Linked DNA regions of Homo sapiens: all the other regions are linked to region 1. The links come from fine-mapping of genetic effects on gene expression. A gene starts in region 1. Each other region holds a variant in brackets. All regions are shown on one strand. Distances are between the middles of the regions. Region 1 holds the start of SPTLC2 (serine palmitoyltransferase long chain base subunit 2). Region 2 overlaps SPTLC2 (serine palmitoyltransferase long chain base subunit 2). Region 3 overlaps SPTLC2 (serine palmitoyltransferase long chain base subunit 2). Region 4 overlaps SPTLC2 (serine palmitoyltransferase long chain base subunit 2). Region 5 overlaps SPTLC2 (serine palmitoyltransferase long chain base subunit 2). Region 6 overlaps SPTLC2 (serine palmitoyltransferase long chain base subunit 2).

Region 1 (4,089 bases):
CCCTCATCAGAACTCCTGTTGCCTAATCTCTCCAGCCTTAGGTTGGTCTTTAACTATTGTTTTCTTTCTATGTGTATATCTTGTCTCTCACTGAAATGTAAGCTCCATGAAGCACAGCCACATGTTTCCTTTTTAGCCTTATACATACAGATGTATATTCACTTTGGGATCAATAGTGTTTGTCAACTCAAATAGGATGTGTGGGATGAATGATCCCACCTTCTGTTAGATTATTCAGCTCCTAAGTCATGCAAAACCAATACCTTGTGGACCTCCTTTCTAAAGCTCCTGCAGGGTGGGGAAAGAATGCACGGATTCTCATAGGTGCATTTAGCAATTACTAGTAACCAACACTTAATGAATGCTTACTAATTGCTAGGTCCTGTACAAAATACATTACATACATAAACTTATTCAATCTTCACGACAACTATTATTGTCCCCACTGAACAGATGAAGACACATAGAGGTCACTCAGCTAGTAAGTGGCGCAGCTAGGATTTAAAACCCAGACCGACTCCAGAGTCCATACTCTCAATTATGATACTAAATTCTTTATGGATAACAGAAAGTCTCTAATTGTAATGTAGATCAATTTCCTTGCTTTCTAACCCCATGGGAAGATGGAACTAAAAGGGTGAGAAAATAATATTTATTATACTCCTACTATAAGCCTAGTATTATAAGAGGTGCATAATGGGTTAATGATATAATTCTTGCTGTAAGTCTATGAAGCAGGAAGTATTAACTCCATTTTAAAGAATTTGGCTTCTAAAGTGGTTAAACACAGTGCTCAAGTTTTAGCTTCCAGTTATTGGCAGAGTTGGAATTAGACCAGGTTTTCTAACTTTGAAGGAAAGACTTAATTTAAAGGAGACTGTATAGAAAACCCTGCCAAGGGCAAATGTGAAGGGCACGTGAAAAGGCATCTGAATTATTACTTATAATAATTCAGAAATAGTGAATGTGTGGCGCATATTGAAGAATGATGAGAGATTGTCAAAAAATCTATTCTATAAACACTCACAGAGGAATCAGCTAATTAAATAAGCGAGCTGCCTGTCTTGGGCTAGGACATAAACTCCAAAACTTCCCACGAGGCAAGGGCAAAGAGGGCGCCACCTGTCCTGGAGAACCTGGGAACCCGCTCTAGAGACTTCGGCTCAGCCCCTTTTATTTCCTCACACTCTAATTGGCTACTTTTCCCTGGGCTCCGCCTCCTCCTCGGTCTGGACCATTAAACAGGCAAGCCCTACCCCGGACCTGGATGCGGCCTCCAATCAGGTGCCAGGCCCTGGAGTCCCTCTAGAGAAGCCCCCTCTCCACCGGCGAGGCGCTTTGCTCTCGTCCGTGATTGGCCAGGCAGCAGCATGGGGTCCGCCTCCTTCTCTTCCAGATTGGTCAGCGGTCCTCAGGACCACATCCCTCTCGGCAGGTCCCCGCCGCTTTTTCCCTTCGCTGCGTGGCCTTGGCCGAGACCGGTCCTCTGCGGAGAGGGCCCCGCCCTCTGTGAAGGCCCGCCCGGGAATTGGCGGCGGCGCTGCAGCCATTTCCGGTTTCGGGGAGGTGGGTGGGGTGCGGAGCGGGACTTGGAGCAGCCGCCGCCGCTGCCACCGCCTACAGAGCCTGCCTTGCGCCTGGTGCTGCCAGGAAGATGCGGCCGGAGCCCGGAGGCTGCTGCTGCCGCCGCACGGTGCGGGCGAATGGCTGCGTGGCGAACGGGGAAGTACGGAACGGGTACGTGAGGAGCAGCGCTGCAGCCGCAGCCGCAGCCGCCGCCGGCCAGGTACGAGGGGCCCGCGCGGCGGGGCCGGGGTGGCGGTGTGGACTGGCGGAGGGGCGGCCGGGCGGGGCGAGGTCTCCGGGCCATCCGCTGGGCAATCCGCGGGGCGGGCGCCGTTCGCAGGTGTGGGCGGCAGTGTCCGGCCGCTGGCCCGACCTCCACGAGCCTGGAGGCTCAAGGACGGCTCGGGGGCTCCCCACCTCTCCGCGCCTGGAGGTCTTACTCCCGGAGCTCTGGGTTCTGCTCAGAGCTCCGGGTACTTTTCTCTGCCCCATTCTGCCAGAAGTGTGTGCTGTCCCCAGGGGAAGCGATGAGGGGCCCTTCGGACTCCAGTGGGAGCCGCCCAAGGGCTCCGGAGGGTCCCTTCTCAAACCCCTGAGGTTATTGCTTCCTTTTAAAGTCCTGCAGTCGTCCAAAGAAAACCACCCATGGGGTCCTTAAGAAGCAAAGAAAATTAGGCGGTGGTGTCAGATGGAAACACACCCAGCCTCTCCCAACCACATTCTGGACTACCACGTTCAGTCCCCAACCAGGACATTGGTCCATAGATCTGGCAGGGAATCCAAGCTGGTCCCTCGAAAGCATCATTCTCTTAACTCTGCCGGTGGTGAGACTCTACCCCAGGCTCCAGGTTGGATTAGGTGGCCCCTTCGACCCTTTCCTGAACACGAGTGCTATCACACAAGGGGATTGTTTAGCCTGGTGGTGACTTGCGATGACTCTATACTAATTAACCATGCTGAATCATCAACCAAGTTCAGGCAGTTCTAAAATATTTTGAAAAGTTCTAAATTCAAGACAATGCTTATTATCAACCTTACAGTGGTCTGGACTGACAGATATTCTGTTGAAATGTGTTTTTAAAGATGAGCTGGTTAAAAAGATGCAAGATCGGTGTTCCTGGAAGAGAGTGTTGCGATAATTTTGCAGTTGACTTTAATACGTTTAAGTCTTGTACAGATATTAAGGAACGCTTAGAAAGTACTCTGTTTCCCTTTAGCGGGAGTGTGACTGTTGCAGTTTGATAGGATGGTGATCTTAATTTGGCTTTAACATAACTACTCCCCAGATGAGTAGTTATGATGGATAGGTCTGTTACTGTTTGCTGCGAAGCAGAAAATAAAGCATTTTTCCAGGTCATGTTGAGATATTGAGACTGAGTTGAGGGGAAAAATAAGTAAAGCAGACTTGACCTCCCCTGAAGTTGTAAGGTGTCAAAGCGAAGTAATACACAGATCAAAAGATTTGTTTTCACTTTTAAAGAAATAATTGTGTGAGGGAGGAAGTGATAACAGTCAGCTCATTATAAGCAGTGGAATAGTTTGTCGTTTTCCTAGCAATGTAAACGACTTATAAGACAAAATTGTTGTGGTATAGAATGTAATAGGGAAATTTAACGGGTAGGAGTTAGAAAATACATTTGCAGGTGAATTTCATTGAGGTATGATTTTTTTTTTGTTTTTGTTTTTGTTTTTTTTTTTCAGACAGTTTTGCTCTTGTCACCCAGGCTGGAGTGCAATGGCGCGATCTCGGCTCACTGCAGCCTCCACCCCCTGGGTTCAAGCGATTCTCCTGCCCCAGCCTCCCGAGTAGCTGGGATTACAGGCGCCCGTCATCACGCCCGGCTAAATTTTGTATTTTTATTAGAGATGGGGTTTCACCATGTTGGCCAGGTTGGTCTCGAACTCCTGACCTCAGGTGATTGGCCTGCCTTGGCCTCCAAAAGTGCTGGGATTACAGGCGCACCAGGCCGAGGTATGATTTTTTTTGTTTTTTTGGTTTTTTTTGAGATGGAGTCTCGCTCTGTCGCCCAGGCTGGAGTGCAGTGGCGCGATCTCGGCTCACTGCAAGCTCTACCTCCCAGGTTCACGCCATTCTCCTGCCTCAGCCTCCCAAGTAGCTGGGCCTACAGGCACCCGCCACCACGCCCGGCTAATTTTTTGTATTTTTAGTAGATACGGGGTTTCACTGTGTTAGCCAGGATGGTCTTGATTTCCTGACCTCGTGATCCGCCTGCCTCGGCCTCCCAGAGTGCTGGGATTACGGGTGTGAGCCACTGCACCTGGCCGGTATGATTTTTTAAAATGAAAAAGGAAGTCAAGAGAAAGGTGTTCACACTTCAGCGTTGCTTTGTGTTCAAATGCTTCTTTCAATCCCTATGAGTTATGTTCAGATTTAGTAGGAAATCAAGGACCTTTCTCCCATAATCTCTAACAATTTAGCATTTATAGAATGATATTTCTTCAGAGCTTGCCAACTAATAAGGTGAAGAAATATCAAGGTACTAACATGACATTTTAAAATCT
Region 2 (4,089 bases), 100 kb after region 1:
TATTTTTTAAAATGGGAAGCGCAAGGATATTGGCTCAGGGGAGCGGCAGGATGGCTGTCCTAGAGGATTCGGTTACTCAGCTCTATAATGAATACATGTTTTTCTCCTAGAAACCCACCTTACCTGTGATCTAGAGGTTCTGTGTAGACTGTTAATGAATGGCGATGCATGTAATGGCTGCCTGTCCCTAACATACCCAAATACCCCACACAAGAGTCAGCACTCATTAGAATGTCATCTTATATTCACATGACACCGATTTGTCTGAAATATTTGGAGTGGGATCAAAGGAAATCTTGTAATCTAGATCCCCTTGGGCTACTGAGGATTTCTTTTTCTATCTAATGATTACTTTTCTACATTGATGAAAAAATTCTAGATTCTTCTAAAGTTTATAAATGTCCATTACTTTGTGATCTTAGTCATGTGCACTTTTGTCTTATTATTATTATTTTGAGGCAGGGTCTCAGTCACCCAGGCTGGAGTACAGTGGCATGATCTTGGCTCACTGCAGCCTCCATCTCCCAGCCTCAAGGGATCGTCCCACCTCAGCCTCCAGCATAGCTGGGACTATGCCTGCCAATTTTTTTTTCTTTTAAGAGACGAGGTCTTACTATGTTGCCCAGGCTGGTCTCAAACTCCTGGGTTCAAGCAGTCCGCCTGCCTTGGCCTCCCAAAGTGCTGTGATTACAGGCTTGAGCCACCGTGTTCAGCCTTGACTTTTTTTTTTTTTTTTTTGAGACAGAGTTTTGCTCTTGTTGCCCAGGCTGGAGGGCAATGGCATGAACTCAACTCACCGCAGCCTCCGCCCCCTGGGTTCAAGCGATTCTCCTGCCTCAGCCTCCCGAGTAGCTGGGATTACAGGCATGTGCCACCACGCCCAGCTAATTTTGTATTTTCAGTAGAGACAGGGTTTCTCCATGTTGGTCAGGCTGATCTCAAACTCCCGACCTCAGGTGATCTGCCCATCTCAGCCTCCCAAAGTGCTGGAATTATACAGACATGAGCCACCGCGCCCGGCCAGCTTTGACTTTTGTCTTAAATTATTACATCTTGTCACAGAGGTCAGGTGAATAAATGGTCGATGGGTTCTCCCAGCTTAATTTCAGACTTAAATTGTTTCCATGTGGAGCTTTCACTTATACCTCTTCTCAGAGGTACCGCTGTTGTGATAGCACATTGACGTTCAGCTCTTATTTGCTTTTATATTTTTCACATTTTGAAATGAAGAATATTTTTTCTTGTGCTACAATACATCAGTAATACTGGTGGTTTTCTCTCTCCAAACACTGATTTTTTAAAAAAATGAAGTTTAAGATGCCAGGTGTGGTGGCTCATGCCTGTAATCCTAACACTTTGGGAGGCAGAGGTGGGTGGGTAACTTGGTGCCAGGAGTTCAAGACTAGCCTGGCCAACATGGCAAAACCCTGTCTGGACAAAAATTAGCTGGGTGTGATGGCACATGCCTGTAGTCCCAGCTACTCAAGAGGCTGAGGCAGAGAATCTCTTGAACCCAGGAGGCAGAGGCTGCAGTGAGCCGAGATGGTGCCACTGTACTCCAGCCTGGGTAATAAAGCAAGACTCTGTCTCAAAAAAAAAAAAAAAAAAAAAAAAAAAGTTGCTGGGTTCGTTGGCTTACGCCTATAATCCCAACACTTTGGGAGGCCAAGGTGGTGGATCACTTGAGGTTGGGAGTTCAAGACCAGCCTGGCCAACATGGTGAAACCCCATCTCTACTAAAAATACAAAAATTAGCTGAGCATGATGGCGGGCACCTGTAATCCCAGCTACTTGGGAGGCTGTGGCAGGAGAATCACTTGAACCTGGGAAGTGGAGGTTGCAGTGAGCTCGGAGGGCGCCACAGCACTCCAGCCTGAGCAACAGAGCGATACTCCATCTCAAAAACAAAAGGGAGAGATGACAAATTGTATTCGGTTTTGTAAGTTCAGAGTGCATATAACTTTTTCTACCAAGCATATCATACTTTGAATTATAGCCTTTATTCTGCATACCTGGCTATTCACAACCCATTATTCATGGTGAGCTTGAAGGCCTTGTTCAAAAAGCAGCTCCTTCCACAGCTGTATTGTAGTCTGATCTTGTAAATGCACTAGACATAAGTCCTGCCGAAGGATAATCTTGCCATGATTGTTTTTAGCAAAGTAAAACACCAGGCATGCCTGCATCCTACTGGCTCTGACAGACCTCTACTTTGTCTTGTGTATTTTAGGCTTTAAAGGAGATAGATGAAGTTGGGGACCTATTGCAGCTGAAGTATTCCCGTCATCGGTTGGTACCTCTACTGGACAGGCCCTTTGACGAGACGACGTATGAAGAAACAGAAGACTGAGCCTT[T/G]TTGGTGCTCCCTCAGAGGAACTCTCCCTCACCCAGGACAGCCTGTGGCCTTTGTGAGCCAGTTCCAGGAACCACACTTCTGTGGCCATCTCACGTGAAAGACATTGCCTCAGCTACTGAAGGTGGCCACCTCCACTCTAAATGACATTTTGTAAATAGTAAAAAACTGCTTCTAATCCTTCCTTTGCTAAATCTCACCTTTAAAAACGAAGGTGACTCACTTTGCTTTTTCAGTCCATTAAAAAAACATTTTATTTTGCAACCATTCTACTTGTGAAATCACGCTGACCCTAGCCTGTCTCTGGCTAACCACACAGGCCATTCCCCTCTCCCAGCACCTTGCAGACTTGGGCCCATCAAGAGCTACTGCTGGCCCTGGCTCCGCAGCCTGGATACTTACCTGGCCCTCCTCCCTAGGGAGCAAGTGCCTTCCACTTACTTCCCATCCAGGTCTCAGAGGTCTCAAGGCCAACCTTGGAATCCTTATTTAACCATTCAAGTAATCAACGGAAGTTTTCACCCTTTAATCTTAAGTTTAGCCTTTTAAGAAAAACAGTAAGCGATGACTGCTGAAAGGCTCATTGTGTAATCTCCCAAGGGTTTGGTCTTATTCCATTTTCTTCTGGTCACCAGATGATTTCTTCCTTTACCATCAAATACTTCTTCATAATGGTCACAGTCTGAGGATGTGCGCAAATTCTGGTTCTTCCCAAGCTCTAACCGTAACACGTCCCACCCCCTTTTTAAAGCACTTACTGTTTTCAGAGCACCCATATCCCACCCTGGTGAGAAGGCCACTCTCACATCTGAGTGTTGGGTACAAAGCTGCTCCGTAGAGTGATGTGCACTCCTGGTGGGTGAGGGGCAGGGGCAGTGGCAGTGTGCAAAGAATTGATTACTCCTTGCAGAGCCTGTGGCTTGCATTTCCTACTGCTTTCTACGTTTGAAAATTATGACAGTCTCTGGCTAGGTCTGGGTCCAGATTAGGATTTAAACTGATAAAGGAAACTGTTGGTAAATCCTCTGCTCAGAAAGCATTTATCATGTTCCTATTTAAGGATTAGGTTTATTAATTTAGGCCTCTTAGAAGCTAACCCACTTAAATATTACTCTTCTGAATGCTAGTTCTCTTTTATTCTTGATGTCCTAAGTCAATTGAATCTGGCATCTGGGGCTAGGGTCTGCCTGTCTACATATTTTTTATTTTTTTCTGAGAAATTCTGAACACATAGATCTCTTTCCTAAACTGACATTTTCTATTTTGACTGTTTTCATACTATAACCAGGTAAAGGGACTTCTTTCAGAGAGCTTTATACTGCCTGACCAAAGAACAAATCTGAAAATCACCATTTTAAAGTTATTTTTTCAGTTGAACCAAAGTTTAAGTGAAGAGGACTTTTGGCATATTATACCCAGGATCAGTTTGTCTTTTTGTATCCATCAAGTATTACAGGAGAAGGATTGGGAACAGAATGGAAAAACAGTGTATGAAAGTCATGTTACAGGCCGAGTGCGGTGGCTCACACCTGTAATCCTAGCACTTTGGGAGGCTGAGGCAGGTGGCTCACTTGAGGTCAGGAATTCAAGACCAGCCTGGCCAACATGGTGAAACCCCGTCTCTACTAAAAAGACAAAAAATTAGCTGGGCGTGGTGGCGGGCACCTATAATCCCACCTACTTGGTAGGCTGAGGCAGGAGAATCGCTTGAACCCAGGAGGCGGAGGTTGCAGTGA
Region 3 (4,089 bases), 97 kb after region 1:
ATAGATCAGTGAATAAAATACAAACATCTCTGTCCTTGTGGAGCTTACAGTCTAGTAGGGGGCAACAGTCAGACAGACATAATAAACAAATGAACTGTGTACGATGTTAGAAGGTGTCAAGTGCTATGGAAAAAAATAGAGCAGGACCTATATGGGGAGTTGAGAGTGCCCTGTGGGCGGGCCGATAACACTATTAAATAGGGTGGTCAGGGTAAGGAAGCCTCCTTGGGAAGGAAAATGACATCTGAGCAAAGATTTGAAGGAGCTGACAGCCACTGGAGAAAGAAGCATCTGTGCAAAGGCCACAGTACAGAAGCGAGCTTGCTTAGCTGACGGAAGAGTAGCAAAGAGGTCCCTGGAATTGGAGCACCGTGCCCCAGGGCGAGCAGTGGGCCATGAGGTCAGAGAGGTTTTATCAGAGTGTGTTATTGGATACTTACCAGGTGTGCAGATTACACCAGCTTCTTTGGTTTGTATGAGGCATACATAATGGAAAGCCCTGCCCTAGGATAGCTTTCAATGTATTTGAGAAGTCCAGATGTATAATGAAACCAGAAGACATTTGAAAAGCAAATGAACAGTAATTATACTGAACAAATTTTATTATATGCAAAGTGGCCCTGAAGATGTAGAATAAAGGAGTGACCTGCTTAGTATAGGCTCAGTAAGAAAGGCACATCTTGTTGGATGGGTGAGTTTTGAGCTGGATCTTAAAGCATTTCTCCAGTTTGATTGAACTCATTGAAGGAGCAATTTTTGTAAATTTTTGAATCCCCAGTGTCCACCACAGTCTCCGACACTCAGTAAATGTTTACTGAAATGAATATGGGAGAGGAAATTAAATCAGGGAACCTGGAAGTAATGTGATTCAAAGAGAATGAAAGGGAAGTAAGGAAAAGGTGCTCCCTGAGAGAAAAAGAAGAATTTGGGTTTCAACATGAAGTCATATGGGCAGTTGGTATTATGGCTTCAGAGGGGATGGGGAAGGATTTTCTTCATTCTTCTTTAAGTGGAATTCTCATAAACAAACATGAAGAGTTATCAGATCCAAAGGACTCAGTCTAGAGCTCTCTTTAAAGAAGGCTGTGTCTCCTTTATTCTACATAGGTGCAACTGACTGTGTACACTTTAATTAGGAAAGATTTAGAGAAGGTACAGGACCCAAAAGGGCACAAAAAAGCAATAACTACTAAATATAAGGAAAACAACTCTGTATACAGCATGTATAAAGAAAAGCAAGGTATATTTGGGGAGATAAAAGTTGTAAAGGCATTAAGATGTGTGTTTGTTGAGAAAAAATAAATTTGTGCATTTAAGAAGTTAAAAAAAAAAGATTTAGAGAAGGTAAAGAATTAGAATAAGGCACTAGACAGTTTGGGAGCATGTGCTGAAGATACAGGGCACCCAGGTTCATGCTGACACAAAGGAGGTATGTTGAGGAAGATGTACTGGTACTACAGAGAGTGGGAAAAGGCTGTGAAAAGACTGGCATTAATGTAATGCCAAATGTGCAGGATCTGTATAGCCCAGGCTGGAGTGCAATGGCGTGATCTCGGCTTACTGCAACCTCCACCTCCCAGGTTCAAGCAAATCTTGTGCTTCCGCCTCCCCAGTAGCTGGGATTACAGATGTGTGCCACCACACCTGGCTAATTTTTGTATTTTTTAGTGGAGATGGGGTCTAACCATGTTGGCCAGGCTGGTCTCCAACTCCTGACCTCAGGTGATCTGCCCGCCTCGGCCTCCCAAAGTGCTGGGATTACAGGCACGAGCCACTGGCCCGGCCACATTTTTTTATTCTCAAACAAATGCTGTAAACAGCTTAAAGGAAAAGTTGAAACATAAGGGAGGTCAATAAGAGGAAAAGACAAAAAGCAACATAATTTGGGCCAGGCACAGTGGCTCACACCTGTAATCCCACTTTGGGAGGCCGAGGTGGGTGGATCACAAGGTCAGGAGATCGAGACCATCCTGGCCAACATGGTGAAACCCCGTCTCTACTAAAAATACGAAAATCATCTGGGTGTGGTGGTGCACACCTGTAATCCCAGCTGCTCGGGAGGCTGAGGCAGGAGAATTGCTAGAATCTGGGAGGTGGAGGTTATGGTGAGCCAAGATCGTGCCACTGCACTGCAGCCTGGCGACAAAGCGAGAGACTCAAAAAAAAACCCACATAATTTAGTAGACAAAATTAACTAAAAGTTAGAATGTGTTATTTAGACAAGATACAGATGTGGAGTAAGGCCACAGGGCCTCCAATTTGGCTTACGATAGGGGTGGGGGATTGTTAAATACGAATTGTGTGGTCTGAGTAATCAGCTGAAGCCAGC[G/A]GGTGAACTGGCCTGACAGACACCAAAGGAAGCCCTGAATTCTGAAGCAGTGTTGTTCCCAAGACAATTAAAGAAACGTGTGATCTGGAGAGCTCATGCCAGTCAGCCATTCTGCTAGCAGAAAAGATGTGCCGTGTTACAGCAGATCCCCCACAGCTGCAGAATCCTCAGAATTTGCGGATTAATGTTAAACTGCCAAGCTTAACATTTCAAGGACCAGATTTTAATTAAATACAGGTTCATTTTGAAGCCTCTGAACCACTATTACATATCAGGGACACTTTTTTTTTTTTTTGAGACAGAGCCTTGCTCTGTTGCTCAGGCTGGAGTACAGTCGTGTGATCTTGCCTTACTACAGCTTCTGCCTCCAAGCTTCGAGAGATTCTCATGCCTCAGCCTCCTGAGTAGCTGGGACTACAGGTGCATGCCACCACACATAGCTAATTTTTTGTATTTTTGGTAGAGACGGGATTTCACCATGTTGCCCAGGCTGGTTATTTCAGTTTTGTGAAGGACACCATATAGGAGAAGACTGCTTTAGGATTGACTTTAAAAGTATTTGTGAGCTGTCAATTTTAACTTTAAAAGGAGTTAAAGGAAACTCCTATTAGAAGTCTCCAATGCCTGCATCACCAAAGAGTTGAAATCTTTGAGGACAGCAGGTCCTCTGTAATGAGTGCTTTTTCACTCCTCCTGGTTTCTGTTCTTGTTTTCCCCTTTGCAGCGCCTTTGGACGGGAGATGCTGAAGCGGAACATCGGTGTCGTTGTGGTTGGATTTCCTGCCACCCCAATTATTGAGTCCAGAGCCAGGTTTTGCCTGTCAGCAGCTCATACCAAAGAAATACTTGATACTGTAAGTAGGCACTTTCACCTTGATATAAATATGCCTTTTATTAAAAGGGCCTGTATATTAGATGAAATTCATAATATATTGATCTTGATGTTCTTGTGAGCACCTAAGACAGAGGGGGTGACAGTGCTACCAAAAACATTGGCATTTACAAAAAAACTGTCACCCACCACACCTGCATCATGAGAGCTCTGGAGAATTTTCCGGCTTTGTCTTGCTCTACTGTCTCCCTCACTATGGACTCTACAATTCTCTTTCCACTCTAGCTATTTCTACATTAAGCTTTCTCATATGTTGTTCTGTCTAAAATTTTCTCTCTTGAGCTTTCTCTCCCCTCTGCCTGGCTGACTGCCACTCATTCTTCACATCTCCATTTAAAGGAAAATTGCTCAGGGGCGCCCCACACCTTCTTGCTCTGTGTTCCCTTGGAATCCTGAGATTCTCCCTTACTAAATTCTTCACACCTATAATTATTTAATAGCAGTCTTCTCCATTAGATAAATATTGAGGATAGGAATAAGTCTGTTTTACTGATTCTATATCCCAGCACCCACCACACTGCCAGGCATCTAGTTGGGGATCATTATTACTAAGCTTAATTATTTATTATCTCAAGATATTCTCATCTCTATATATTCTCTTAATATGTTATTGTTGCAAGTCTAAGATTTCAGAGTTTAAATCATTATTGCCATCTGGGAGTTTATAAAGCTTTAGAACATGACATTTGCATAAAATTAGTTGCTAGAAATATCCATTAATGAGTTAGAGAGCTACTAATTTTTTTTTTCTTTTTTGAGAGAGAGTTTTGCCCTTGTTGCCCAGGCTGGAGTGCAATGGCGTGATCTCAGCTCACCACATCCTCTGCCTCCTGGGTTCAAGCAATTCTGCCTCAGCCCCCTGAGTAGC
Region 4 (4,089 bases), 91 kb after region 1:
TTTGGCAGTGATTAATGTAGTTCCCTAAATCTAATTCTGTTTTGTAAACGTGATTGAAGGTTATCAATATCTAGTGGTTATCAGTAGGTAGATAATTGTGGCGCTCCTTCAACCTCTACCCTCCATCCTTTTCAAGGCCTTCTAGTTCCTTAAGAGAACTAAATCTAGGCCTGGTGCGATGGATCAGTTGAGGGTCAGGAGTTTTAGACCAGCCTGGCCAACAAAGTGAAGCCCTGTCTCTACTAAAAATACAAAAAATTAGCCAGGCATGGTGGCACTTGCCTGTAATCCCAGCTACTCAGGAAGCTGAGGCAGGAGAATCGCTTGAGCCTGAGAGGCAGAGATTGCAGTGAGCTGAGATCGCACCACTGCACTGCAGCCTGGGCAACAGAGTGACACTCCATCTCAATTAAAAAAAAAAAAAAAGAGGCCGGGCGCAGTGGCTCACGCCTGTAATCCCAGCACTTTGGGAGGCCGAGGCAGGTGGATCATGAGGTCAGGAGATCGACATCATCCTGCCTAACATGGTGAAACCCCATCTCTACTAAAAATACAAAAAATTAGCCGGGTGTTGTGGCGGGTTGCTGCAGTCCCAGCTACTCGGGAGTCTGAGGCAGGAGAATGGCGTGAACCCAGGAGGCGGAGCTTGCAGTGAGCCAGGAGCACGCCACTGCACTCCAGCCTGGGCAACAGAGTGAGACTCTGTCTCAAAAAAAAAAAAAGAACTAAATAATCTAATGATGCTGTTACAGCATATTGATCTTTTATATCTATTCCTTCCTTCCTGAGAATAAGATTTATTGTAAAGAGGTTGAAGACTAAAAATGACCTGTTAAAGTTATCTACATTTTCCAAGAAATTAACTACATATTTACTTTTCTCTGTCTCTTCCATGCCAAGCTGTAGATTTTTTTACAGTAGAGTTCCTAAAAATAGTTTTATTCTAACAAACCATATTGAAGTCCAAAAGGACAGCCACACAGTTAAGTTTATTTGTAAAATTCAAGAGTCAGTACAGATTTTTCTCCTCCAAATTGCTTTTATGCTTTTTATCACCCTTAAAAGTAAAGATTTATGTTTGAAAAGTAGGAAAGAATTCTGACCTCTTTATATTTCCATCTGTGTTCTTTCGGAGCCAAAGATAAAAACTTCTTAAGAGCAGTATTTTTTTAAACAGTGCTAAACTTTCTTCTTTGTTTCAAGTCTGTATTAGACCAGATACTTGCTGAAACTCTGCAGTGAAAAATCCTTGGGACTGAGCTACTACACTGGCGTTAAATAGCAATTGGTCTTCTTGCATAAATATTAACTGCTATTTTATATGATACTCAAGTCAAAGTGGGTAACTATGTTGTCTGTTAAGATTCAGTTTCACTTTAAGAGCAAAGGATAACTATTTTCTAACGTGTAAATGCCAGGGCTTACTGATTTGTCTACATTTATTTTACTGCTTTTATTTTCCTGTTATTCTCTTTGAAATTAGTAAGTTAAACCATAAGAAATTTCCTGCTTTAAGGTCAAAAATGGTAGCATGTTGGCAGTTTGATGGTTCAGCCTAGCAATTTTAAAGGATAACAGGCCACTTTATTTTTATATATTTATTTATTTATTTGAGATGGAGTCTCTGTCACCCAGGCTGGAGTGCAATGGCATAATCTCGGCTCACTGCAAGCTCCGCCTCCTGGGTTCATGCCATTCTCTCGCCTCAGCCTCCCAGGTAGCTGGGACTACAGGCGCCCACCACCACGCCCGGCTAATTTTGTTTTTGCATTTTTAGTAGAGACGGGGTTTCACCGTGTTAGCCAGGATGGTCTCGATCTCCTGACCTTGTGATCCGCCCGCTTCAGCCTCCCAAAGTGCTGGGATTACAGGCGTGAGCCACCATGCCCAGCCCTCCTTTTTAAATTTTTTTAATTTTTCTTTTTTTTTTTCGAGACGGAGTTTCACTCTTATTGCCCAGGGCAGAGTGCAATGGCGCAGTCTCGCTCACGGCAACCTCTACCTCCCAGGTTCAAGCAATTCTCCTGCCTCAGCCTCCTGAGTAGCTGGGATTACAGGCATGCACCACCACACCTGGCTAATTTTGTATTTTTGGTAGAGATGGGATTTCTCCATTTGGTCAGGCTACTCTCAAACTCCCAACCTCAGGTGGTCCGCCTGTCTGGGCCTCCCAAAGTGCTGGGATTACAGGCGTGAGCCACCGTGCCTGGCTCATTTTTCGTAAGTGACAGAGTCTCACACTATGTTACCCAGGCTGGAGTGCAGTGGCTGTT[T/G]ACAGGTGCAGTCATAGCTCACTACAGCCCCAAACTCCTGACTCAAGAGATCCTCCTGCCTCAGCCCCCCAAGTAGCCAGAATCACACCACTGTGCCTGGCTTTCCTTTTTTTAAAAATTGATACATAATATTTATGGGGTACATATGATATTTTGATAGATGCATACGGTATCAAATATTCTGATCAAATCAGAGTATTTTGGATATGTGTCACCGCAAACATTATCATTTCTGTGTGTTTAGAACATTTCAGCTCTTCTAGCTATTTTGAAATACACGGTAAACTATTGTTAACTGTAGTCATCCTGTGCTATCAAAAGCTATAATTTATTCCTCCTATCTAACTATATGTTTGTACCCATTAACCAACCTCTCTTCAATCCCCCTTTCCCTACCATTCCCAGCCTCTGGTAACCACTGTTCTACTCTCTACCTCCATGAGATCAACTTTTTTAGCTCCCACATGAGTCAGAACATGCGATACGTGTCTTTCCGTGCCTGGCTCATTTCACTTAACATCATGACCTTCAGTCCCATCCATCTTGTGCAAATGACAGCATTTCATTCTTTTCATGGCTGGATAGTATTCCGTTGTGTGCATCTGCCACATTTTCTTTATCCATTCATCCGCTGATACTTAGAATGATTCCGTATTTGGCTCTTGTGAATAGTGCTGTAGTAAACATAGCTGTGCACACATCCCTTTGATACACTGATTTCCTTTTATTTGGATAAACAGCAGTAGTGGGATTGCTGGATTGTATGGTAGTTCCATTTTTAGTTTGAAAAAACTTTTTTTTTTTTTTTTAACAGAGGCTAGTTAATTTGTGATTAGATAGCTAAAAGGTTTGTGATTTTTTTTTAAAGGTGGTGGCTGGGCAGCATGGTGGCTCACTCCTGTAATCCCATGCCACAATCAAGGTTAGAATATTTTCATCGTCCCTCCTGGAAGTTCCCTTCTGCCCCTTTGCTATCAGCCGCCTTCCCATACTTTCTGGCAACCATGAATCTGTTTTCTGTCATTACAGTATGTCTTTTTAGAGTTTCATACAAACGAATTCATACAGTGTGCAGTCTCATGTCTGGCTTATTTCAATGAACATTATATTTTGAGATTCATCAGCATTGTTGCCTTAGCAATCATTTGTTCCTTTTCATATATTTCCTTTCTCTCCTCATGTTTCTTCTACCTTTTTGAACATATAGATCATATTTATAATGGCCTTTAACATCCATATCTGCTAATACTCCGTTATTTTTGGTCGGTTTTTATTGACTGACTTTTCCCCTGGTTGTACGTCATATTTTCCTGTTTCTTTGAATGCCTGGAATTTTAAAATTATATGTTGGACATTAATTTTACATTGCTAGTTTCTATATCTTGTTGTTTTCCTTTAGGTAATGTTGGACTTTGTTCTTGGAATCAGTAGGATCCTTTCAAAGCTTGCTTTTAAGGTTAGGGTGGGTTCAGACCAATTTTTAGTCTAGGGTTCATTTATCTCCACTACTAAGGTGATAGGAGTAGAGTCCCCTTCTGAGGACTCTGTTAGATAACCCACATATTATAAGATCTTTATATTTTGGTGGACAAAAATACAAACTATTCCCAGCTCCATGTGAGTGCAGGAATTGTTTGGCCTATTGCTTTCTGATGGATCTTTTCCCCAGCCTCTGCTAGTTTCTTTTCATGCGTATAGAAATCAGTACCCTTCCCAAAGTTCAAAGGGACCCTTCAGCAGATCTCTAAAGCTCTCTCATCGCACCCCACCTCCCTGCTCCTGTACACTGCCCAACAAATTCTAGCCCCCGCAGCCT
Region 5 (4,088 bases), 57 kb after region 1:
CAGAATGCATGGTTAAAAGAGTATACATTTTTAATACTTTTCCAAATTGCCTCTAAGCATTATATGAACTTTTTTTTTTTCACTTTTATTTTAGGTTCAGGGGTACATGTACAGGTTTGTTATATAGGTAAATTGCATGTCTCGGGGGTTTGTGTACAGATTATTTCGCCACCCAGGTAATCAGCATAGTACCTGATAGGTAGGTAGTTTTTCGAACCTTACCCTCCTCAACCTCCCCTGCCTCACTCTCAAGTAGACCCCAGTGTCTGTTGTTCCCTTAGTCGTGTCTGTATGTACTCAGTGTTTAGCTCCCACTTACAAGTGAGAATATGTGGTATTTGGTTTTCTGTTCCTGTATTAGTTTGCTTAGGGTAATGGCTTCTAGCTGCATCCATGTTGCTGCAAAGGACATGATCTCATTCTTTCTTATGGCTACATAGTATTCCATGGTGTATATGTACATATATATATATATATTTTTATTTTTATTTTTGAGACAGAGTCTTGCTCTGTCTCCCAGGCTGGCATGCATTGGCATGAACTCAGCTCACTGCAACCTCTACCTCCCCAGCTCAACCGATCCTCCCATCTCAGCCACCCTAGTAGCTGGGACTACAGATGTGTTCCACCACGCCCGGCCAAGTTTTTTGTTTTTTGTTTTTTGTGTTTTCTTTTTGTATTTTTTGTAAAGATGGGGTTTCACCATGTTGCCCAGGCTGGTCTTGAACTCCTGGGCTCAAGCAATCCACCCACCTTGGCCTCCCAGTACTGGGATTATAGGCATAAGCCACCACGCCTGGCCCACATTTTTTTAATCCAGTCTACTGTTGATGGACATTTAGATTGATCCTATGTCTTTGCTGTTGTGAATAGTGCTACAATGAACATACACATGCTTGCATCTTGTATGAATTTTTCCTCAACAACATGAGATTGACTGTTCCTACTCACTGGCCAACATAGGCTATGGTGAATCATTTTAAATCTTTCCAAATCTAATGAGGAAATAATATGTTAGTTTTTATTTCATTGCTTATTAGATATAGAACAACTTTTTGCATTTTTACTGTTTTTTTAACTCTACTTGTAAGCTAATGTGTTTGTATTTCTTTATAAATTGGCCATTTTCAAATTGTTTCTATTTTTTACTGATTATAAGAGCCCTTTATATTAATTATCTTTTCCTTTATGTTGCATTATTTTATTATTATTTTTTTGAGACAGGGTCTTGCTGCATCACCCAGGCTGGAGTGAAGTAGCAGAACCACAACTCACCACAGCCTTGACCTCCTAGGTTCAAATGATTCTCCTGCCTCAGTCTCCTGAGTAGCTAGGACTGTAGGCATCCACCACCATGCCGGACTAGTGTTTTTTATTTTTTATAGAGACAAAGTCTCGCTGTGTTGCCCAGGTTGGTCTTGAACTCTTAGGCTGAAACGATCCTGCTGTCTCAGCCTCCCAAAATGCTGGGATTACAGGAGTGATTCACCATGCCCAGACTGCACTATTTTTATATTTTTGACTTTGTTTTCAGTGTCTTCCTGTACAGACTCATGAAAATGTTTTTGTTGCCACACTTACTGTTTTACGACTTTCGGATTTTACACAATACCCTCCTCATTCTCAGATCATAATGTTATTCTTTCATGTTTTCTTCTGGGAGTTTTGCGATATATTTTTTATTTAAATTTATGTGGAATTTGGGGGCATAACATTGGAGAGATTGAATTTTTTTTTCTAAGTAGATAATATGGTTAAGCATTCTGCTATAGGTATTTCTTTTTTTTGAAACAGTCTTGCTCTGTCACCCAGGCTGGAGGGCAGTGGCGTGATCTTGGCTCACTGCAACCTCCGTCTCCTGGGTTTAAGCGATTCTCATGTCTCAGCCTCCCAAGTAGCTGGAATTACAGGTGCCCACCACCACAACCGGCTAATTTTTTTTGTATTTTTAGTAGAGACAGGGTTTTGCCATGTTGGTCAGTCTGGTCTCGAACTCCTGACCTTAAGCGATTCACCCGCCTCGGTCTCCCAAAGTGCTAAGATTACAGGCGTGAGCCACCACACCTGGCTGATGCTTCTTTTATCTAAAATTTTGACCAGTATTATTTTTCTCCTCCTTCTATATATAAACAGAGAAAACTAAAATAATTCCTGTGTTTTTACTTGTCTTCAGCTGATCGCCATACATTGCTCTCTGCCTAAGAACTGGAGGCTTTGCAGGACTTGGGGAGGCCAAGGAGGGCAGATCACCTGAGGTCAGGAGTTCAAGACCAGCCTGGCCAAAATGGTGAAACCCCACCTCTACTAAAAATACAAAAATTAGCTGGATGTGGTGGCATGCACCTGTAATCCCAGCTACTCAGGAGGCTGAGGCTGGAGAATCACTTGAATCCAGGAGGCGGAGGTTTCAGTGAGCAGAGATCACGCCACTGCACTCCTGCCTTGGCGACAGAGCAAGACTCTGTCTCAAAAAAAAAAAAACAAAAAAACTGGAGGCTTTGAGTCAGGACGTAATTTACTTCTG[T/C]AGGGAACATCTCCTGAATCTTGATTAGGTCGTATGCAGATTTTTTTCTTAGAAATTACTGAATGTGTAAGCACAGTCACAACCTTAGACTATCTTATTTGTGTTTGTGTTCTGTGTTTTTATTACCTTATCTCTTTTTCTGTCAAAATTGTTTTCTGCAAAGAGCAAAATCATGTACTTTTATAACTCCTTCCTCCAGTTACAAGCAATACAGAATACAAAATCAGATTTTATGATAGGGCCAGGCGTGGTGCTCACGCCTGTAATCCCAGCACTTTGGGAGGCCGAGGCAGGCGGATCACCTGAGGTCAGAAGTTCAAGACAAGCCTGGCCAACATGGTGAAACCCCGTCTCTACAAAAGTACAAAATTAGCCTGGCGTGATGGCGGGTGCTGGTAATCCGAGCTACTTGGGAGGCTGAGGCAGGAGAATTGCTTGAACCTTGGAGGTGGAGGCCTCAGTGAGGAGAGATCACACCATTGCACTCCAGCTTGGATGACAGAGGGAGACTCCATCTCAAAAAAAAAAAAAAGATTTTATGATAGGATGTCTCCCACCCCTATTAAGTATTCCCCAGACTTAATGTTGCTTAAATTTGGGGGAGTTTTTTTTAAGGACTTCATTTCAGGGCAGGTATTTTAAGTATGAAATCTGTAGTGTGGCAACAATGGTCTTCAAAGCATTTGTCTTTAACAAGGAAATTATGATCATCATTAATGGCAGTAGCAGCCAAGTTGTTTCCAGGCCCATTAACCACCATAAGAACCAACAGAGCCACAAGAACTTGGTTGTTTATGGACAACTGATGAAGTCAAACATGGAACAATTTCAACTGATTGTCAGGCTTGCTTAACACACAGACTTATACATGCCCCAGACGGGTGTATTTTTAACCCAGTACCAAAATAAAACTCTTTAACAAGCGTTTATTGAGTACGTCCTGGGTGAAAGGAAATGGAGCACGCACTGTGAAGTTTTTTTACGCCTTGCGTTTGTTTTTTTAGGAGGAGTATGTGTCTGTGATGGTTTATTCACACTCTCTCGCTCTGTCTTTTTTACGCATTTATTTCCGAATGACTCACTGGGATTAGAGATACAGTTTGATTCTGTATTTTTCGATAAACACACAGAAGCTAACTTAATGGCAGGGTATTTAACATGAGACACTGGTCATTTTATAAGGAAGCTAATGAACTGAGTTAGCCACCACCGTCCTTTAGTCAAGTTTCGATGGTTTTGAACATTTGTTACATTTTGGATTTCAATTCAAGGTGGCAATAATTCACCTATTTTGCCCTGCTTTTTTCTGCCCAACTCTAATTATGTCCTTTGCTATCTGAGGCATGGTTTCTGAATGAGAAATATATCTCTGCATTTCCGGAATAAAGTTAGGAAAGAGGAAGATGCGGTATAACTGTTCTTTTTTGTGCTCTGTAGATATGCAAAGCCTAGAGAAGCTATTGAAAGATGCCATTGTTTATGGTCAGCCTCGGACACGAAGGCCCTGGAAGAAAATTCTCATCCTTGTGGAAGGAATATATAGGTAATCCTGCTTTATTATTCT
Region 6 (4,089 bases), 110 kb after region 1:
TTCCTTCTTATTGGTGAAAACCAGGGGGATGAGTGGCTTCCATGGAGAGATTTCCTGATTTCTCAGGGAGGAAAAAAGTGATGACATTTACCACTACTTTTATGTTTTTCCCCTTTTTCCAAATTGATAAGGATTTCTGGTTCCTAGTGATCCGGGATTGGGCAACAGTGCAGAACTGCCAGTCATGCCGTAGGCCGTGAAGAAAGAATGTGAGTAACTGTTGTTTTGCAAGGATTTGTAGGGTTATGGGCAGTTGTTGTTTGAAGCATTGCTATGACCTAATTCCCAAGGTATCTTTCCTCTCTTGGTGTTCTAGGTAAGCCAATGAGCTTTAATCTCTACTTGCTATAACCGTGTGCTTAGAAAAAGAGGTGAGAGTAGTGGTTTTCCTTCAAACTGTCCACATTCATGAAGATTATGAATTGTTAGGACAGCCAGGGCAAGATAGACCCTGTCTCTACAAAAATTTTTTTCTAAATTAACCGGGCATGGTGGTGCCTGCCTGTAGTCCCACCTGTGTGGGAGAATCACTTGAGCCTGGGAGGTCAAGGCTGCAGTGAGCCATGATTGCACCCCTGCACTCCAGCCTGGGTGACAGAGTGAGACCCTGGCTCAATAAGAGGGGGAAAAAAAATTGTTAGGAGCTGGGTGCGGATGCAGCCTGCAATCCCAGCTACTTGAGAGGCTGAGGCCGGAGGATTGCTTAAACCCAAGAATTTGAGCGTAGCCTGGGCAACACAGCAAGACCCCATCTAAGAAAAAAATGTTTTTTAAATCAGCTTAGCCCAAAGGGGTTGTGAATGGGGAGGTATAAAAAGCAAAGATTATTTTTTGGCTACTAAGCCAAGAACTTACAGGGATTTTTTTTTTCAGTCCCAGAACCTACAGATACCCTGCTACTTGCTTCACGTGGATGCTCAGTGCCCAGCAGCCATCTTAATACATTAAACCAGTTTAAAAAATACCTTCCATGTGGAGAAAAACATGTCTTTTTCTCGCCTCAACTTTATCCACATGAAATATGTGCCCATGGCTGGGCGCAGTGGCTCACCTGTAATCCCAACACTTTGGGAGGCTGAAGCAGGCAGATTGCTTGAGGCCAGGAGTTCGAGAACAGTCTGGCCAACATGGCGAAACCTCATCTCTACTAAAATTACAAAAATTAGCCGGGCATGGTGGCACATGCCTGTAATCCCAGCTACGTCAGGAGGCTGAGGCACAGGAATTGCTTGAACCCAAGAGGCAGAGGATGCAATGAGCCAAGATCACACCACTGCACTCCAGCCTTGGCGACAGAGGGAGACTCTGTCTCAAAAAAAAAAAAAAAAGGTGTGCCCAGGCCCCTAGCCATTGCCATGTGCCCAGCCAGAGAGCCAAATTAGAGGGCTGGCTTCCCTATCACACAGAATAAATGCTAGTGCTAGCCAATGATCCCTTTGCTTTTAATGTATAGAAAATACTGTTGTTCCTTTTGTCATTTCCAGTGACATCTGTTTTCTAAGCAGCTCTTTTCTAGGGAGGAAACCAAAGGGGCTAGGTTAAGACCCTAATAGAAATGTTTTTTCTAATCTCTGGTGAGTCTGGAAGTGTCACATTCACAGTCCACCCTTGGGAGTGGCTTGGTGGAGCTGGGGACAAGGTTTTGTTTACTACATAGTGCACATGATAAATGGCCTTAAACTGTGATTCTTTCTGGTAGGATAAGTTATAATAAACTGACCCTAAAGAATGCAATGGCTTTTAAACTGCAGTTACTGTGTTCTTAATGAAGCAATACCCAAAGCTCTGTTCTTTTGGAGCACTTGAGGGGAGCTTGAATGAAAGGTGCAGATAAGAGCAGTACCTTGATCTTATGCTTTCTGAGTGTCCTGCCTTGTTGCCATCTGCATGGATGAGTGAATGCTTCT[A/G]TGCACGAGGAGACTCAAGCCAACTCAGAGTCTGCTTTTTCCAACGCTCTTCCCAGGTTTCTTTTGCAAAGCTTGGTCATTTGGCCCAGGTCTTCCTGGAAAGTGGAGTACATGTCACTGACTAGGGTGGCGTGGTGTCTTTACCCTTAACATTAAGTCTTGTTACCTCAGTGATGTGAAGCCAATGGTTGGAATTATAAAAAGCATCCTTGCTGGTTCTTCACAGGACACTGGAACCCACCCTGTCAATTCAGCTAGCATGTCCACACAGTCTTGATGATCCCTCTCTGTAACAGGCAGCTAACATTAAGAGAAGGGGGAAAGAGAAGAAGAGAGCAATAGCTTATGGGAGAGCTGAGATCTTACTTCGTTGACCCATATTTTTCCCCTGACCAAGTTACCTGTAAACTGGAATTTGCAAGGGGATGCTGTGATGATAACCCCTTTCTATTGCTGTAATGTTCATATAACCTGGGAAACTGAGAGAAGGGGATGTGTAAATAAAAGCTTAAACATTTTAGTAATGTGTTAAAATGTCACTCTCTCTTACCCTGTTTCCCTTTTTTGCCAGATGATGATTTTTTTATTTTTATTTTGTACTTTACTGGATGACTGTGAAGCGATGAGTATTGGGTTGGGGTAGGTGTGTTGATTTTGAGAGTGCATGTTAAGAACTGAAGGGGAACTACTTGAGATGACTTAAGAAGCATCCCATGCAAATATCTTGTTTTGCCCTAATAAAATATTCAGAAAGATATATCTGCCTTTATTCATTCAACCAATACATATTGAGTGCTATCTCTCTGATGGGCAGCACACTGAGCTTTGTGGTTCCTACTTGCTAGTAAACAGATAAGCACATGAACATACATGTCATTTTACAAACTGTTAAGTGCTATGGAGGAAAAGTAAAGAGCTTGGTAAAAGTAACCAGGCCGGGCGCGGTGGCTCACGCCTATAATCCTAGCACTTCAGGTGGATCACTTGAGGTCAGGAGTTTGAAACCAGCCTGGCCAACATGGCGAAATCCCGTCTCTACTAAAAATACAAAAATTAACCAGGCATGGTGGCACGTGCCTATAATTCCAGCTATTTGGGAGGCTGAGGCACGAGAATCGCTTGAACCTGGAGGCAGAGGTTATAGTGAGCTAAGATCACACCACTGCACTCCAGCCTGGGCAATAGAGCAAGACTGTCTCAAAAAAAAAAAAAAAAGACAGTAACCATGATCTGGTTTAGACAGGGGTGAGAGAGAAAACTGAGGACGTGGAGGGTCTGAAATAAAGTACAGTTGGAGCTTGATTAAAAACTGTGTGGGGAGGTGAGGTAGTGGGGAGGTGGTAGAGGCAGACTCACTGGGCTTTGTAGATCTTGGTGAGGTCTTTCTCTTATGCAGGGGGTGGGGGTCAGACTAGTGAAAGGGCTGGGTTTTTAAAAAATTTTTTAAATTATTACCTAAAGTGGAGACAGAGTTTCACTGTGTTGCCCAGTCTCGAATTCCTGGCCTCAAGCAATCCTCCCGTCTCAGCCTCCTGACATACTGGGATGACAGGCATGAGCTGCCACACCCGGCCCAGTGAGGAGTTTAAAGTATGGAAACAGATAACTCTCAGTGTTTTTGTAGACATGGACAATTTGATAAAGTTTATATGGAAATCTAAAGGACCTAGAATAGTCCAAACGATTTTGGAAAAGAACTTACACTACCTGATTTCAAGACTTTCTGTAAAGCTACAGTAATCAAGACACTACTGTTGGCATTAAGATAGTCATGTAGATCAGTAAAACATACTAGAGTCCAGAAATAGACCCACACATAGAAGGTTGGTTGATTTTCAACAGAGTTGCCAAGGTAGTTCCAGTGGGGAAAGTACAGATAATTCAACTAATGGTCCCAGAACAACTAAATATCCATATGGGCAGAAATGACCTTCAACCCTTAACTCATAGATATACAATAATTCAAAATAAATCACCTGAACACAAAAATTAAAACTATAAAATGTCTAGAAGAAAACAGAAGAGAAAATCTGTGACTTTAGGAATGATTTCTGAGGACACAAAAAGCATTATTGATAAGTTGGACTTGATCAAAATGAAAATTTCAAAAGACTGAAAATGAAAAGCAAACCCCAGGCTGGAGTAAAAGATTCAGAATACATGTATTTGATAAAGGCTTTCT

What was found. PIP is the estimated chance that this variant, and not a neighbour inherited with it, causes the effect. A credible set is the group of variants that fine-mapping cannot tell apart.
Region 2: its variant is the best candidate, but not a certain one, in a credible set for the expression of SPTLC2 in whole blood (INTERVAL, PIP 0.63).
Region 3: its variant is the best candidate, but not a certain one, in a credible set for the expression of SPTLC2 in tibial nerve (GTEx, PIP 0.54).
Region 4: its variant is the best candidate, but not a certain one, in a credible set for the expression of SPTLC2 in whole blood (INTERVAL, PIP 0.75).
Region 5: its variant is the best candidate, but not a certain one, in a credible set for the expression of SPTLC2 in whole blood (TOPMed, PIP 0.87).
Region 6: its variant is the best candidate, but not a certain one, in a credible set for the expression of SPTLC2 in lung (TOPMed, PIP 0.52).

Annotation. Positions count from the first base shown.
Region 1 is chr14:77,614,145-77,618,233 of GRCh38, reverse strand. It overlaps SPTLC2 (serine palmitoyltransferase long chain base subunit 2), which reads left to right and starts at 1,597. Exons shown (of 12, transcript NM_004863.4): 1 at 1,597-1,786. The coding sequence starts at 1,655. RefSeq lists silencers at 1,171-1,230, 1,561-1,610, 1,751-1,950 and enhancers at 1,270-1,802, 2,131-2,340.
Region 2 is chr14:77,510,545-77,514,633 of GRCh38, reverse strand. SPTLC2 (serine palmitoyltransferase long chain base subunit 2) reads left to right here. Exons shown (of 12, transcript NM_004863.4): 12 at 2,231-4,089. The coding sequence ends at 2,350. Among named protein-coding and RNA genes, the nearest start is that of ISM2, 14 kb to the right of the region's middle. The variant T/G (reference allele first, on the strand shown) is at 2,356.
Region 3 is chr14:77,517,132-77,521,220 of GRCh38, reverse strand. It overlaps SPTLC2 (serine palmitoyltransferase long chain base subunit 2), which reads left to right. Exons shown (of 12, transcript NM_004863.4): 11 at 3,054-3,183. Among named protein-coding and RNA genes, the nearest start is that of ISM2, 20 kb to the right of the region's middle. The variant G/A (reference allele first, on the strand shown) is at 2,330.
Region 4 is chr14:77,523,433-77,527,521 of GRCh38, reverse strand. All of the region lies in intron 9 of SPTLC2 (serine palmitoyltransferase long chain base subunit 2), which reads left to right. Among named protein-coding and RNA genes, the nearest start is that of ISM2, 27 kb to the right of the region's middle. The variant T/G (reference allele first, on the strand shown) is at 2,274.
Region 5 is chr14:77,557,020-77,561,107 of GRCh38, reverse strand. It overlaps SPTLC2 (serine palmitoyltransferase long chain base subunit 2), which reads left to right. Exons shown (of 12, transcript NM_004863.4): 7 at 3,962-4,067. Among named protein-coding and RNA genes, the nearest start is that of SPTLC2, 58 kb to the left of the region's middle. The variant T/C (reference allele first, on the strand shown) is at 2,525.
Region 6 is chr14:77,504,572-77,508,660 of GRCh38, reverse strand. SPTLC2 (serine palmitoyltransferase long chain base subunit 2) reads left to right here. Exons shown (of 12, transcript NM_004863.4): 12 at 1-2,664. Among named protein-coding and RNA genes, the nearest start is that of ISM2, 7.8 kb to the right of the region's middle. The variant A/G (reference allele first, on the strand shown) is at 1,908.